Linked DNA regions of Homo sapiens: region 1 is linked to region 2. A link means that fine-mapping ties the variant in region 2 to the expression of a gene that starts in the linked region. Tissue or cell type: whole blood. Region 2 holds a variant in brackets; the other region holds the start of a gene. All regions are shown on one strand. Distances are from middle to middle.

Region 1 (8,100 bases), 140 kb after region 2:
CCCCCTCCCGGGGTTTCCCTGTTGGTTCAGGGCTGTGGGGGATTCCCCTTCCCCTTCTTGGGCTCCCCTCTCCCCACTTCAGTTCTCCCCTCCTCCTAGCCCCAGGCGGGATCCTCTCCCCTCCCCGCTTCTCCCTCTGGGACTTCCCCCTCCTTCTCTCTCTCCCTCCCCCGTCGGGGCTCCCCCGATCCCCGTGACTCCTAGGGAGCCGCTGGGGTTTTCCTCATGCGCCCACGTGAGGCTCCGTGGAAAGGTCGCGGCCTGCGGGCAGGACCACCCCACCCCCTCCCCACTCCCCCCTAGTTCCCAGGCTTGGGGGCTGCAGGGCAGAGGGGAACCGAGGTCGTCCCGGCGCCTGGCCAGGGCGGGCCCACTCTGCAGACCCGGGGCGGGAAGACTGAGGCCGGGCACGGAAGGGCTGGGCCACGCTCCCAGCCCGGGGCAGGGGGAGTCACCACCGCGCCTGCAACTTTGGGAGAAGTAGGAGGTGGCTGGCCAGGGCTCGCAGTTTCGGTTTACAGGCAAAACGCAGCACTGCGCCAAGCCCGGCTGGCCCGGAGGCCGACTTCCTGGGGTATTTTTCTGCTTGTTGATTTTAGTTTGCGGAAATAAAAAAAGTTTTTTTCTTTAGTGCAAAAGAGAGGCCTATCCTGGGATGGAGAAGGCTGTGGTGGGCTGGGGGGGCACTCCCTGGGGAAGCCTCCAAAAGCGCTCTTCCTTGCAAGCCCTGAGCTCACCTCGCTGTGTGGTACCAGGTGCCCCCTTGACCGATCCGGACCTTGGGCTGCGGTGGCCGCCTAGGCGGTCAGGGGCTGCAGCCAGCACCCCCTCCCGCTGAAATGCCTCCATATGTGCCCAGAGCTTGGGGTTGGCTCCTGCACAGCCAGTAACAGTGGTGGCACGGCGGCCAGGTTTCGTAATAAACCGGTCTCTTAATTGCTGCAGGGTAGGAGGAGAAGGAAAAAAAAAAAGAGGCATAGATTTGTTGGAGTCGGTGGCGGCGCCTGCTGCGGAGAGAAGGGGTACTGTTTCTGCACGGGAGCCTGGAGCTGCTAACAGGGGCTTAAGTAACACTTCCTGGTGAGCTGGCGGGGGTTGTGGGGGGTGAAGCGTGTCCCCGGGGAGGGGGCAGGGGTCCTAGTTGTTCTAGAAGCCGAAAACATACAAGCAACCAGAGGCTTTAGAAATTTATTACAAGGCCCTCATAGTAGAAATAAAAATATAGATATCTATGCTTCCCATCTCGCTCTCAGTGGTTCGAATAACAAGTGCAAGTAACAAAATAGATTGTCTCTATAATTCGCAAACTGGGAGTTCATGGGTACAGAGCAACTTCAGCCCCAGCTCCCAAGTCCCAAAGTGTGGTCTTGTCGAGGGTGCAGACAAGGACCAACCAAGTTCAACCAAGTCTCTCGTATGCAGACGCCAGCTCCAGTCTCAAGGAGGGTGGGGCTTGCAGTCAGTCTCACTCCACCCCCGAGTGGACAGTCTGGACCCTCCGTGATGGGGAAGGCGGCAGCGTGCCCCGCCACTCCGGCTTCTGCTCCATCCCAAGGCCTCAGCTTCGGGGGTCCTGTCTCCTGCTGGCCTGGGTCCCCCCTTCTCCATCGGATCGGCGGCCGCCAGCTCCTGGATCTCCGCCCTGGGGGCGGCCGCTCACTCCCCTTCTCCTCCTCCTCTTCCTCTTCAGTCTCCAACGACTCTGCCCCCGATGGTCCTCGTGGGTTGGGTTGTTTTGGGGGGGTTGTGCTGGGGGGGAGGGGGTTCAAATATTTATTGTATTTTTTGTTTGTGGCAGCAACTCAACAGATTCTGCTGCTGGGAAGGGCCTCAGCGTTCCTGAAGAGAGATGTAGGGGACCCACTGGTTGTTGCCCCGGCTTTCTTCGCAGTAGCTGGCCACCTCCACCAAGCCGTGGCTCTTCCAGGCGTCCGTGTGAGGGTTCTGTAGGAGGGAAAAGAAGGGGTTTAGTGGAGCCTCCCTCTCCCGGGGCCCCTGTGTGGGGAAAACAGTCAGGCTCAAAATAGCTTCCTGGGTGAGGAGGCCCCAGCCCGGCTGCCCACGGGACATGCCAAACGTGGCTGAGCGCTGAGCTGTGCAGGACCAGTCAGCCCGACTTTGTTGACAAACACCGGCCCAGGTGCCCGGGCGTGGCGGGGCAGGGCAGAGGCCCGACTCACCGTGACCAGGAGACAATGCAGGTCTCGGGCCTCGGTGGTGCCCTGGGTCTCGGCCGGCTCTCCCAGGAGCTGCGCCAGGCGCTGCATGCCCGACACCCGCACGATGTTGATGTCGTTGTCACAGCAGAAGGACTGGATGAGCGTGAAGTGGATTTGCAGGGCGATGTCATCCTCCTCCTCCTCGTCAATGGCCAAGAGGCAGAGGACCACGCTGTCTGGGTCCCTGAGGGGGCCAAAGGGTAGGGATGGGTCAGCCGGGGACAGGGGAGGGGCCACCGTGCAGGGGGAGTTTGCAAAAAAGGAGCGTGCAAGAGCAAAAGAGAAACTGCAAGGGTGCAGGGGATTGCCTCTGCAAGCTGGTGACGGTGGGGGGAGGGGAGGGCACACGGTTCAAAGTATGGGGTAGGGGGAGACAGGCCCACGGCGGGAGGGGTGTTTGCAGACGATACATCAGGATACGGCAGCCCCCGATCCACAAAACGGCAGAGAAGCTCTGCATCCACAGCGGGGGGCACTTGGGGAAGTCCCAGCTCCATGCAAGACAAGCGTGCGGAAAGCGTCCAGAGCGGAGGGGAGGTCCCGTCCCACCCGCGCCCAGCCCGGGAAGGGGGTCTGACTCACACATTCATCAACTTGGCCGACTCGTACACCCCCACTGTGAGGCGATCCTGGCGCTGAGCGGCCACCAAAAGCTCCTCCACCGCGGCGGTCACCGTCTGCATCCTGAGACCAGGAAAGAGGGATCAGTGACGGGCGGACCACCGGGTGCTACGTTCCGCTCCCGGCCCGGCCCAACCCGACCCATCCCGTCCCGGCTGACCTCAGGCGGCGGCAGCCCCGGCTACTTACTTCTGCGCCGCGTTGTCGCACGCCACGAGCTCTTCCAGCGTCATGTTGCAATTATAATCCACAGTGGATGCGGCTCCACGGCAGTCCCCAGGGAGAAATTGCAAAATCCGAGCCAGAGAGCCCAAAACCTTCCCACAGAGCTAGAGCGCTCGTCCAAGACCTTCGGGAAGCAGCGAAATCCTTCCAGAAAAGGCGGAAAAATATATTGCAAAGTCCTTGGCGAGGATAATCCAGGAAGTTGCGGAAACCAACGGTAGTCCGACGCTTCGGCGATCTGAGCTGGGAGCCTCCGGCACCGACTTTTATAGACTTGAACATTGGGCGTGGCCTCAGTGGAGTCATTCGCCCCTCCTATTGGTGGAAAGACAAGGGCGAGTGCAGCTAGCTCTGCGGTTGGCCGACGGAGGGGAGGGGGAGGAGCGGCGTGCGGGGGCGCCCCACGTGGGGGCGAGAACCGGGAGGAGGGCGCGCGGGGGCCGGGTAGGTGACCGCGAATGCCAGAAAAGAAAAAAAAGCAGAAGTTTTTTTCTCCTGATTTCCCGGCAGCCGAGCCGCGGTTCGGGGCGCGCGCGGGATTTCCAGCGCGCGAGGCGGCCCGGACTTTCGGGGGGGCCTGGAATCCCCTCCCGATCCGCGGAGAGTCCCGGACCGCGCCTTTCCCAAGTTCTGCTGGGGGTGGAGGGGCTGCACCGGGAAGGGGCCCCGTTTGCAGCGTGATCTCGCCCAGGTGGTGGTGAGGGCCGGAGTCTCTCCTGGCTGCGACGACCCCAGCCCCTGGGTGATTTCGCTTCTCCCGGCCTCTCTGTTCCCGTCTGAGTAATGGGTCTGCAGCGCCGGCCTCGCTGGTTTGCAGAGCATGGCATAAAATACGGCTGACAGTAAGAGCCCAATACACATCAGCTGTCACCTGGTGGTCGCGGGAGGCCTCCTCGAGGGCCCCGAAAGTGGGAGGTTGCAAAGCCCGGGGCGCTCTGGAGAAGAAAGTGGGCGCCTCCTCGCCGACCCCGCGAGTATCAGGGTGGGGTGCGCGTGGGAGGTGCAGGTGGCGCGGCCCCGCCCCCGCCGGCTGCCTGGCGTTCCAGCCTTTGCCCGTGCGGAGGCCTCCAGGCCCTGGAGAAAGCCATTGTTGAGGGGAATGGTGCAGGCTCCGGCTGCACGCCGCCACCCAGGGCCCACGTGCAAGGATGACGGCTACTTTTATTTCTCACTCCGGGGTGGGCGCTGACCTGCATTGAGTGCGTGGTGCGGACCTGGTACCCCCCACCCCTCCGGATTCATGGATGATTTAATCCAAGACCTGGGAAGCAGGGGGGATGCTTATGTGCATTATGCAAAAGGGGAAACTGAGGCTTGGTGAGGCCATAGGCTAGTTCGTGTTGGAGCCACGCGTGTGCGCCAGGCACGGCCGCCTGCAGGACTCCGCCGCCCCGGGAAGGCTGTTCAGGAGCGAGGCTGGCAGGCCCCGCATGACAACGTCTCCCACGGTCGACTGGGGGCTCCCGGGTGACTCACATCTGAGTCCCCTCCCCCGCCAGCCTGGGGTCTGGCCTCCGCCCGGCGGCTCACTTTCCCCAGTTGCCCGGCTCCCCGGCCCGCGGGTCCGGCTGACGCATCCCACCTCCTCCGCGCCGCCCACCGCTGGGGCACGAAATGTCCCGGGGCTGCGAGGCGCGGTGGCGCCATCTGGTGGCCGCGCCGAGTTTCTGCGCCCTCAGCGCCGGAAGAGAGGGACGGACGGGCGGGGCACTGGGCTGGAGGCGGGGGATAAGGGGACCGTGGCGGTTGCAACGTTTTATGTAACTTTATGCAATGTTTTACGCATGCAACATACATATTTATATTTTATAATTTCAATTTAAAAGTTAAATCGGCCGGGCGCGGTGGCTTACGCCTGTAATCCCAGCACTTTGGGAGTCCGAGGCGGGCGGATCAACTGAGGTCAGGAGTTCGAGACCAACCTGACCAACATGGCCAACATGAGCTGAAGATAAGGAAGATCAGGGAGGTGGGTGGGATAAGTGCAAAGTCAGATTCTGTCTTTATTTACAATTTTGATATTTTGTTCCTCATGGATACTTGGGCATTGATTTTGATTTTTAAAAAGTATTGCAGGCTGGGTAATCCCAGCACATTAGGAGGCTGAGGCGGGCAGATCGTGAGGTCAGTTCGAGACCAGCCTGACCAACATGGTGAAACCCTGTCTCTACTAAAAACACAAAAATTAGCTGGGCGTGGTGGCACGCGCCTGTAATCCCAGCTTACTCAGGAGGCTGAGGCAGGAGTATCACTTGAACCCAGGAGGTGGAGGTTGCAGTGAGCCGAGATCATGCCACTGCACATGGCATGGTGACAGAGAGAGACTCCATCCTCCCCAAAACAAACAAACAAACAAACAAACAAACAAAAAGGCCGGGCACGGTAGCTCACTCCTGTAATCCCAGCACTTGGGGAGTCTGAGGCAGGAGGATCACCTGAGGCTGGGAATTCAAGACCAGCCTGACCAACCTGGAGAAACCCCATCTCTACTAAAAATACAAAATCAGTCGGGCGTGGTGGCACATGCCTGTAATCCCAGCTACTCTGGGGGCTGAGGCAGGAGAATTGCTTGAACTTGGGAGGCAGAGGTTGCAGTAAGCCGAGATTGCAGTGAGCCGAGATCGTGCCACTGCACTCCAGCCTGAGTGACAGAGTGAGACTCAGTCTTTAAAAAAAAAAAAAAGAAAGAAAGAATGGGGTGTGTTGTGTGCACCCAGCTACTCCGGAGGCTGAGACAGGAGGATCACTTGAGCCCAGGGGTTCCTGGCTGCAGTGAGCCGGGATTGCACAGTTGCATTCCAGCCTGGGCAACAGAGTGAGACCCCGTCTCAAATAAATAAATAAAATAAGGGCTGGGCACGGTGGCTCATGCCTGTAATCCCAGCACTTTGGGAGGCTGAGGCAGGTGGATCATCTGGGGTCAGGAGTTCAAAACCAACCTGGCCAACATGGTGAAACCCCGTCTCTACAAAAAATACAAAAATTACCTGGGCATGGTGGCACATGCCTATAATCCCAGCTACTCGGGAGGCTGAGGCAGGAGAATCGCTTGAACCCGGGAGGTGGAGGTTGCAGTGAGCCGAGATTGCACCACTGCATTCCAGCCTGGGAGACAGAGCGAGACACTGTGTCAAAAATAAAGCAAATAAAATAAATAAAATAAGGCGAGCAAAGCAGGGCCTCAGAGAATATGTGTCCAAGTCCTTCTTCCGTGTGTCCCCCGTGCCAGCCATAACAACCTCCTCTGCGAGAGGCCCAGCCTTTGTCAGCTGTTTCCTCCGCCTGGGATGCTGTCTTCCTCTGGTCTTCAGCAGGAAAACCCTACTCCTCTGTCAACACTGACTTGGCCTTGTTTTCTCCCAGACTGACTGCCTGGACCCCCATGGTCCTCCACCCTCCAGGCTTCTCTTTCTAGACCCCAAGCCCACCTGTGCCTCCTTTTTCCAGCCCTGGCTCCAGGCATCTTAGAATATCTGGAGTATCTTGGAATATCTTCAAGAGACTCTGAGCTCTGTGCCTTTGAGCTCAGAAAATGAGCTCCAGCCGGGCCAGGCGTGGTGGCTCATGCCTGTAATCCCAGCATGTTGGGAGGCCGAGGCGGGTGGATCACCCGAGGTCAGGAGTTCAAGACCAGCCTGGCCAGCATGGTGAAACTCCATCTCTACTAAAAATATAAAAATTAGCCAGGCATGGTGGCGCATGCCTGTAGTCCCAGCTACTCAGGAGGCTGAGGCAGGAGAATCGCTTGAACTCGGGAGGTGGAGGTTGCAATGAGCCGAGATCGTGCCACTGCACTCCAGCCTGGACAACAAGAGTGAGACTCTTTCTCAAAAAAAAAAAAAAAAAGAAAATGAGCTCCAGCCTCAGTTTCTTTCTCTGTAAGATGGGAACAGTCACACAAAGGCTTCATCACAGGCATTGAAGGAGGAAATTCCCAGAATCAGGTAAGCACTCAGGAAATGTGTGCTATTATCTTTGGGCTGGGCGCCAGAACTCACCTCTGTAATCCCAGCACTTTTGGAGGCCGAGGCAGGAGGATTGCTTGAGCCCAGGAGTTTGAGACCAGCCTGGGCAACATAGGGAGACCCCATCTCTACAAAAATTTTAAAAATTAGCCGACCGTGGTGGTGCGCACCTGTAGTCCCAGCTACGTGAGAGGCTGAGGTGGGAGGATCACTTGAGCCTGGGAGTTTGAGGCTGCAGTGAGCTATGATTGTGTCGCTGCACTCCAGCCTGGGCAACAGAGGGAGACCCTGTGTCTAAAAATAAAATAAAATAAAAAATGAGATCAATAACAGTGTCGCCGAGGCCATCTTGGAGCCTGAGGTGAGAGGAATAATCAGTATGAGTAATCCTGTCATAATCTTTTTTTTTTTTTTTTTTTTTAGACAGAATCTCGCTCTGTCACCCAGACTGGAGTGCAGTGGCGCAATCTCAGCTCACTGCAACCTCCACCTCCTGGGTTCAAGTGACTCTCCTGCCTCAGCTTCTCAAGTAGCTAGGACTACAGGCGCCCTCCACCACACCTAGCTAATTTTTTGTATTTTTAGTAGAGACAGGGTTTTGCCATGTTGGCCAGGCTGATCTCGAACTCCTGACCTCAAATGATCTGCCTGCCTCGGCCTCCCAAAGTGTTGGAATTACAGGCGTGAGTCACCGTATTTGGCTTTAAACAAAATAAATTTTTAAAATTTTATCCAGCATAGAGGTTTTTGCATTCATTCAGAGTTAAAAAAAAAATGTGGCCGGGTGTGGTGGCTCACGCCTGTAATCCCAGCACTTTGGGAGGCTGAGGTGGGCAGATCACGAGGTCAGGAGATCGAGACCATCCCAGCTAACACAGTGAAACCCTGTCTCTACTAAAAATACAAAAAATTAGCCGGGCGTGGTGGCGGGCGCCTGTAGTGCCAGCTACTCAGGAGGCTGAGGCAGGAGAATGGTGTGAACCCAGGAGGTGGAGCTTGCAGTGAACCGAGATCGCGCTACTGCACTCCAGCCTGGGTGACAGAGCAAGACTCCATCTCAAAAAAATAAG
Region 2 (8,100 bases):
CGGGGTTTCACCATGTTAGCCAGGATGGTCTCGATCTCCTGACCTCGTGATCCTTCCACCTCGGCCTCCCAAAGTGCTGGGATTACAGGCGTGAGCCACCGCGCCCGGCCCTTTCTTTCTTTTTTTAATTGTGGTAAAATATATGAAACATAGTATTTACCATCTTAGCCATTTCTAAGGGCTCAGTTCAGTGGCATTAAGCACATTTGCATGGTGCTGCACCCATCACCACCGTCATCTCCAGAACTTTCCATCTTCCCAGACTGAATCTCTGTCCCCGTGAAACACTTGCTCCCCGTCCCCTTCCCAGCCCTTGGCACCCCCCATCCTGCTTCCCTTGTACTGTTCGCTCATGTTCACAGCAGCCAAAAGGTGGAAGCAACTCAAGCGTCCATCAACAGATGGACTGTCTCTGTGAATCTGACGGCTCTAGGGACCTCCTAGGCGTGCAGTCACACAAGATTTGTCCTTTTCTTTTAGATGCAGTCTCGCTCTGTGGCCCAGGCTGGAGTGCAGCGGTGCGACCTCGGCTCACTGCAACCTCCGCCTCCCAGATTCAAGCAATTCTCCTGCTTCAGCCTCCTGAGTAGCTGGAATTACAGGCACCTGCCACTATGCCCGGCTAATTTTTGTATTTTTAGTAGAGATGGGGTTTCACCACATTGCCCAGGCTGGTCTCCAACTCCTGACCTCAAGTGATCCACCTGCCTTGGCCTCCCAAAGTGCTGGGATTAAAGGCGTGAGCCACCACACCTGGCCAATTTGGTTTTTTGTGTCTGGGTTCTCTCACTGAGCGTGACGTCCTCAAGGTGCATCCGTGTTGCAGCCTGTGTTGGGATTCCCTTCCTTTTCATGGCTGAGTAATATTCCATCATACAGATGCACCATGCTGTTTATCTGTCCATCTGTTGATGGACGCTTGGATTGATTGCTTCCACCTTTTGGGTGCTGTGAACATGAGTGAACAGTACAAGTATCTGTCCGAGCCCCTCCTTGCAATTCCTTTGGGTAAGGAACACCTTGTTTATTTGTTTTCTTGAGACCTGGTCTTGCTCTGTTGCCCAGGCTGGAGTGCAGTGGCACGATCACAGCTCACTGCAGCCTCAAATGCCCATGCTCAAGCGATCCTCCCATCTCAGCCTCCAAAGTAGCTGGGACTACAGGTGCACCACCACGCCTGGCTAATTATTTTTTTGTAGAGATGGGGTCTGGCTATGTTGCCCAGGCTTGGAACACCCCGTTTGTTCTGGGTTTGATACTACAGCCCAACCTGTGGTCACCTTTTTGCCTCCTGGGACACAGAAGAGCTCAGACTGAGCCTGGGTGTTGAGGACCTTAGCCGGAAAGTGGCTTCTCCCTCACCCACCCTCACTTGGCCACACACCCCCAGGAAGAAGGACCAATGTTTTCTATCAGTGGCCGTGCCCGGGGTGTCAGAGCTCTAGTGGTATAAATGATACACGGTGAAAGTGAAAACAAAGCCCTCCTCTCTGCCACGTTGCTCTCGCATTGAGCTCCCTTTCCCGGAAGCCCCCTCTCTGCCGCGTTGCTCGCATTGGGTTCCCCATCCCGGAAGCCTCCCTCTCTGCCGCGTTGCTCGCATTGGGTTCCCCATCCCGGAAGCCTCCCTCTCTGCCGCGTTGCTCGCATTGGGTTCCCCTTCCCGGAAGCCCCCTATCTGCCGCGTTGCTCGCGTTGGGTTCCCCTTCCCGGAAGCCCCCCTCTCTGCCGCGTTGCTCGCGTTGGGTTCCCCTTCCCGGAAGCCCCCCTCTCTGCCGCGTTGCTCGCGTTGGGTTCCCCTTCCCGGAAGCCCCCTCTCTGCCGCGTTGCTCGCATTGGGTTCCCCTTCCCGGAAGCAGCTGGTGTTGCCAGTTTCGGGGGCTTTCCCTGGAGATGGGCTGAATCCCCAGCCCTCATTACTGACCATTGACTTCTGCAGGGCTTATCCCGCACCCTTTGCAAGCTTAAAAACCACCAGGAGCCGGGCGCGGTGGCTCATGCCTGTAATCCCAGCACTTTGGGAGGCCGACACAGGCGGATCACAAGGTCAGGAGATCGAGACCATCCTGGCTAACATGGTGAAACCCCGTCTCTACTGAAAATACAAAAAATTAGCCGGGTGTGGTGGCGGGCGCCTGTAGTCCCAGCTACTCAGGAGGCTGAGGCAGGAGAATGGCGTGAACCCGGGAGGCAGAGCTTGCAGTGAGCCGAGATCTCGCCACTGCACTCCAGCCTGGGTGACAGAGCAAGACTCCGTCTCAAAAGAGAGAGAAAAAAAAAAAAAGTTGATGAGGGTTTTGGGCAGGCAGAGGGAATCGAACTCACTCCTCCGTGGTGATCAGCATGAAGGAAGGGGAGAGAAAAGGGGCAGACGAGCCTCTTGTGGCTGCCATAACAGGTGACCACAGACCCGGAAGTATCAATCCGCAGACGTGTGTCCTCTCACGGTTCTGGAGGGCAGAAGTACTAAACCAAGCTGTCTGCAGAGCTGTGCTCCCCTGGGCGCTACAGGAGAGGATCCTTCCGCGTCCTCTGGCTTCTGGGGGCTCTGGCAAACCTGGCTTGTGCTTACCGTCGAATTGCTCCAGTCTCTGCTTCTGTTTTCTGCTGTCTCTCTGTGTCTCCTTCTTTGTTTTTGTTTGTTTGTTTGTTTGTTTGTTTTAGATGAGGTCTTGCTCTGTCACCCAGGCTGGAGTGCAGTGGTGCCATCTTGGCTCACTGCAACCTCTGCCTCCCAGGTTCAAGCAATTCTCCTGCCTCAGCCTCCCGAGTAGCTGGGATTACAGGCGCGCACCAACACGCCCGGCTAACTTTGTGTTTTTAGTAGAGATGAGGTTTGTCCATGTTGGTCAGGCTGGTCTCGAACTCCTTATCTCAGGTGATCTGCCCACCTCGGCCTCCCAAAGTGCTGGGATTACAGGAGTGAGCCACTGTGCCCAGCCATTTTTCTTTAATTAATTTTTTGTGTCTGGAGTCTTGCTGCTGTGTTGCACAGGCTGGAGTGCAGTGGCAGCATCATAGCTCACTGCAGCCCTGAAATCCTAGGGCTCAAGCAATCCTCCCGCCTCAGCTTCCCGAGTAGCTGGGACCACAGGTGTGGACCACCACATCCAGCTTCAACATAAGTTTTAAGCAAATGCAATTAGTCCGTAACAGTCATTTTCCGAGGTTCCCCGTGGACAAGAATTTTGAAGGGACGTCACTAAACCCCTTGCAAGGGAAGTGAGCTTTACTCAGGTCTCAGGAAGCTCCTGGGGTGTGCAGGAAGGGGCGAGGTCACCCCAGGAGGAAGGCGCTGTGCTAAGGAAAGGTGACTGTTGATGGGGCCCCCGTTTGCAGAAACCTGTATGAGTCGTACCACCTCTGTGTAATCTGCCACCTTCAGAGCGCCTGCAGGAAGGCGGCCACGTCACCCCTTTTATAAATGAAACTGGAAGCTCAGGCTGGGAAACCCAAGGTCACAGAACCCAGCCTCAAAGGCAGCCAGCATTTCCACCGCAGGAGTCTGTTCTCTGCACAGAGCTGTCTTGCTCTGTTGCCCGGAGCCAGAGTGCAATGGCACGATTTCGGCTCACTGCAACCTCCACTTCCCGGGTTCAAGCAATTCTCCTGCCTCAACCTCCCAAGTAGCTGGGATTACAGGCGCACAACACCACGCCCAGCTAACTGGCCGACCCACGTTGGCTGGGGGTGCTGACGGCATAAGCTCACCCCTAGGTCCCTCTAGGGTGGCCGATGACAGGACCCTAAGAAGCTCACCCCCAGCTGGGATGTTTCGTTGAAAATCTTCTCTTTTGCCTTTAGTTGCTTGAAAACATTGGACTCATACCCAAGAGCTTTCTAATTGGTTTCGATAGGAAACGGTTCTGAGGTTTCGCCTTTTTTAATATCCTGTTGGTCTGAGACTGGAGTGGCCCCTGGGGTGGCAGGTTTCCCGGTGCATGGGCCCAGCTCTGGTGTGTGGGTTG[G/C]GGGATCAGGACAGAGGTTTGTGAGGGGGGCAGTGACCTGCCTGCAGAGAGAGGGGTCGGGACGACGGCCTGTAGCCAGGGTGCAGGGGGATCTGCCTTTCTTTCATTCTACAGGGTCCTCTCCTCTCCCCTCCCCTCCCCTCCCCTCCCCTCCCCTCCCCTCTCCTCTTTTCTTTTCTGTTTTTGAGACAGAGTTTTGCTCTTGTTGCCCAGGCTGGAGTGCTATGGCGCGATCTCGGCTCACTGCAACCTGCAACCTCTACCTCCCGGGTTCAAGCAATTCTCCTGCCTCAGCCTCCCAAGTAGCTGCGAATACAGGCGCGCACCACCATGCCTGGCTAATTTTGTATTTTTAGTAGAGACGGGGTTTCTTTATGTTGGTCAGGCTGGTCTTGAACTCCCGACCTCAGGTGATCCGCGCCCCCCCCTCGTCCTCCCAAAATGCTAGGATTAGCTTTATTGAGATATAACTGACACAGCGTAAAACTCACCCTTTAAAAATGTGCAGCTCAGCGGTTTTTACATTCACAGAGTTGTGCAACCATCTCCTTTATCTAATTCCGGAACATCCTATCACCCCCAAAAGAAGCCCTGTCCCCCATGAGCAGTCACTCCCCATCTCCCCCCGGCAGCCCTGCCACACACGCATCCCCTCCCTGTCCCCATGGATGGGCCTGTCCTGGACATTTCGTAGAAATGGGATCACACACTGCGTGGCCCTCTGTCTCTGGCTCCTTTCATAGAGTGTGATGTCCTCAAGGTCCATCCACACTGTGGCCGGCATCAGAGCCTTGTTCCTTTTCATGGCTGAGTCCTGCTCCATGGTGGCGTTTGCTGTACCAGGTGGGACAGAATGGACATTTCAGTGGTCCTCCGATGTCTGACCTTGCCCTTCACCCTGATTAGGGCTCAGCCTTACTATAAACAAATACTTGCTATGAACTTACTATGTGCGAGGCCTGGGGTAGCAAACTTTTCTGCAGAGATCCAGATGGCAAATGTTTTAGCCTTTGCAGGCTGGACAGTCTCTGCCTGCCATTGTAGCGGGAAAGCCACCACAAGCAATATGTCAACAAGTGGGTGTGGCCGTGTGCCAATAAAACTTTATTTACAAAAACACACAGTCAGCTAGATGTGGTCCAGGGGCCGTAGTTAGCTAACCCCTGGCTTAGGACAAAGGTTCTCAAACTCTCTGGTCCTGACGATTATTCCAAGGAGCTTTTGTTTATATGCCTTCTACTTACGGATATTTGTTGAATTTGAAATCAAAACTGAGAAAATGTCAATCAAATAGGTATTCATTCATTTTAAAATAGCAATTATAAGCTCTCAGGGTAGCCAGAATGACATTTTTTGTTTGTTTGTTTTTCATGGATAGTAACCGTTTTCTTAAAGAGACAAACAAAAAAGTTCATGGAAATACCAAAGAAAGACCAAGAAACTGAGAGCCCAGAGGAACCCACGGAGATGGGACGGTCAGATGCCACATGGGCTCCTGGATGGGGTCACAATGGGGCAGGAAAGGTCGTGAGGGGAAAACTGAGGGAAGCTGAATCGCTGTGGCATTTGGTTACTAGGAAGGTGCCAGCGTTCCCCAGCTGTGAGCAATGCCCTGTGGTTACACAGGGTGGCCCCTGAAGAGGAAGCTGGTGAGGCGTGGGCGGGGACTCTCTCTTTGCAACTTTCCTGTAAATCTAAAATTACTCCAAATAAAATTGTTTATTAAAAAAAAAATAGAACAGGCTGGGCACGGTGGCTCACGTCTGTAATCCCAGCACTTTGGGAGGCCGAGGCGGGTGGATCATTTGAGGTCAGGAGTTCGAGACCAGCCTGGACAACATGGCGAAACCCCGTCTCCACTGAAAATACAAAAATTAGGTGGGTGTGGTGGCACGTGCCTGTAATCCCAGCTACTTGGGAGGCTGAGGCAGGAGAATCGCTTGAACAGGGGAGGTGCAGGTTGCAGTGAGCTGAGGTTGCACCACTGCACTCCAGCCTGGGCAACAGAGTGAGATACACACACACACACACACACACACACACACACCACACACATACAGGTAGAAAAGAGAAAAATGTGGCTGAGAGCTTTGCAAGGGGCATGGGTGAGGAGTAATCTGTGTCCTCAGTGCCCTGGGGTTGGCAGGGATTTGGGCAAGATGGAGAAGCTGGTGAGTGGAAGAGTAGATGGAAGGCCAACCCGTCGGTCAGTCGCAAATATTGACCCGACACTCACTGTGTGCCAGGGACAGCCTAGGTGCTGGGGGCCCAGCCTGATACAGGTGGAATCAAGTCCTGTTCTCAGGGAGCATGTGTCACACAGAGACAGCACATGCCCAGACACACTGGCAAACCAAACAGAGGGTCTTAGAAGATAAGGAAATAGTCACGCCTGTAATCTCAGCGCTTTGGGAGGCCGAGGTGGGAGGATCACTTGAGGCCAGGAGTTTGAGACCAGCCTGGGCAACATAGCAGGACCGTATCTCTACAAAACATTTAAAAAATTAGCCGGGCATGGTGGTGCACACCTGTAGTTCCAGCTGCTCTGGAGGCTGAGGTAGGAGGATCACTTGAGCCCAGGAGGCTGAGGTTGCGGTGAGCTGTGACTGCACCACTGCACTCCAGCCTGGGCAACAGAGCAAGACCCTATCTCAAAAAAAAAAAAAATAAAAAGGAAAAGACAAAATAGGATGAGGTGGCACCAAGAGGAGAGAGTCTGTGCCACGTGGTGTCCAGGAAGGTCTCTAAGGAGGGGACATCCTTGCCAACCCCTGCAGGATGGGGAGGAGCATTGAAGGCAGGAGGAAGGACATTCCGGAGGGCTCCCTGGAAGCGGAGGTCTGGGAGCCACGGGAGGGGACCCAGGCCAGGTCTTTGAGGGCTGGAGGTGGAGAGGAGGATGGGGAGAAGAACAGTCTGAAGCATCATGGCAGAATGTCCTTGGTCTGAGGTGACCTAGTGTGGCTTCTTGATCAGATTGATGGGGTCCTCAGAGCTCACAGCCCAAGGCAGGGTCAGAGCTGCAGGGCTGGGCCGGGCTCAGTGCCTGGATGGCTGGTGAGCTCTGCCTCCCTGAAAGATCCAGTTTCTGGTCCAGGCCAGCGGTTCTTAAGTGGGACAGGTTTGCCTCCAGGGGACTCTGGGTGATATCTGGGGACATCTGTGGTTGTCACGACTGGAGATGCTCCTGGCATGGAGTGGGTGGGGGTCAGGGACGCCACTCAGCACCCTGCAGTGCACCAGGATGGCCCCATCCCAGAGAATGATCCAGCCCTGAACGTCAGAGACTTTGGGTTAACGGAATGTAATTAGGCTGAAATAAGCTAAAGTTTTTCCGATAGTCACGTGCTGGGCAGCACACTGGTGGAAGGCTGGTGCAAAGCTTTCATGCCAGAACCTTCTGATTCCAAGACACTTTCATTCACAGTCACCTGCATGACCAGGGAGGCGGAGCTGCACTTATCCCGTGACCCCAGATGAGGAAACAGTCAGAGGAAGAGGCGGGCAGAACCCGGGCCCCACTGCTCTTGGCAGCTCTTGGAAACATCCTCCCCTAGGGCCCTGGTCACCAGCCTTGCCCAAGAACCCACCAGCTATATTTGTCTGGTTTTTTTTTTTGAGATGGGGTTTTGCTCAGGCTGGAGTGCGATGGCGTGATCTCGGCTCACTGCAACCTGCAACCTCTGCCTCCCGGGTTCAAGCAATTCTGCCTCAGCCTCCTGAGTAGCTGGGATTACAGGCACCCGCCACCATGCCCGGCTAATTTTGTATTTTTAGGAGAGACGGGGTTTCTCCCTGTTGGTCAGGCTGGTCTCAAACTCCTGACCTGAGGTGATCCGCTCGCTTTGGCCTCCCAAAGTGCTGGGATTATAGGCATGAGCCACCACACCCAGCCTTTCTTTGTTTGTTTTTTAATAGAGATGGAGTCTCTAGCCTGGCTAACATGACAAAACCTCATCTCTACTAAAAATACAAAAATTAGCTGGGCACGGTGGCACACGCCTGTAATCCCAGCTACTCGGGAGGCTGAGGCAGGAGAATCGCTGGAACACGGGAGGCAGAGGTTGCAATGAGTCGAGATCGTGCCATTGCACTCCAGCCTGGGCAGCAGAGCGAGACTCCGGCTCAAAAT

Evidence for each region. PIP is the estimated chance that this variant, and not a neighbour inherited with it, causes the effect.
Region 1: GADD45B starts here. The variant in region 2 is fine-mapped to the expression of GADD45B in whole blood (TOPMed, PIP above 0.99).

Annotation. Positions count from the first base shown.
Region 1 is chr19:2,471,332-2,479,431 of GRCh38, reverse strand. It overlaps GADD45B (growth arrest and DNA damage inducible beta), which reads right to left and starts at 3,305. Exons shown (of 4, transcript NM_015675.4): 1 at 3,030-3,305; 2 at 2,802-2,903; 3 at 2,181-2,403; 4 at 1,175-1,944. The coding sequence starts at 3,073. The coding sequence ends at 1,831. RefSeq lists silencers at 1-484, 4,045-4,154, 4,525-4,664 and enhancers at 555-664, 1,055-1,104, 1,915-1,984, 2,005-2,064, 2,135-2,294 and 5 more.
Region 2 is chr19:2,616,258-2,624,357 of GRCh38, reverse strand. The region is part of intron 2 of GNG7 (G protein subunit gamma 7); the gene reads left to right. Among named protein-coding and RNA genes, the nearest start is that of MIR7850, 10 kb to the left of the region's middle. RefSeq lists enhancers at 2,182-2,381, 3,261-3,560, 4,893-5,187. The variant G/C (reference allele first, on the strand shown) is at 3,969.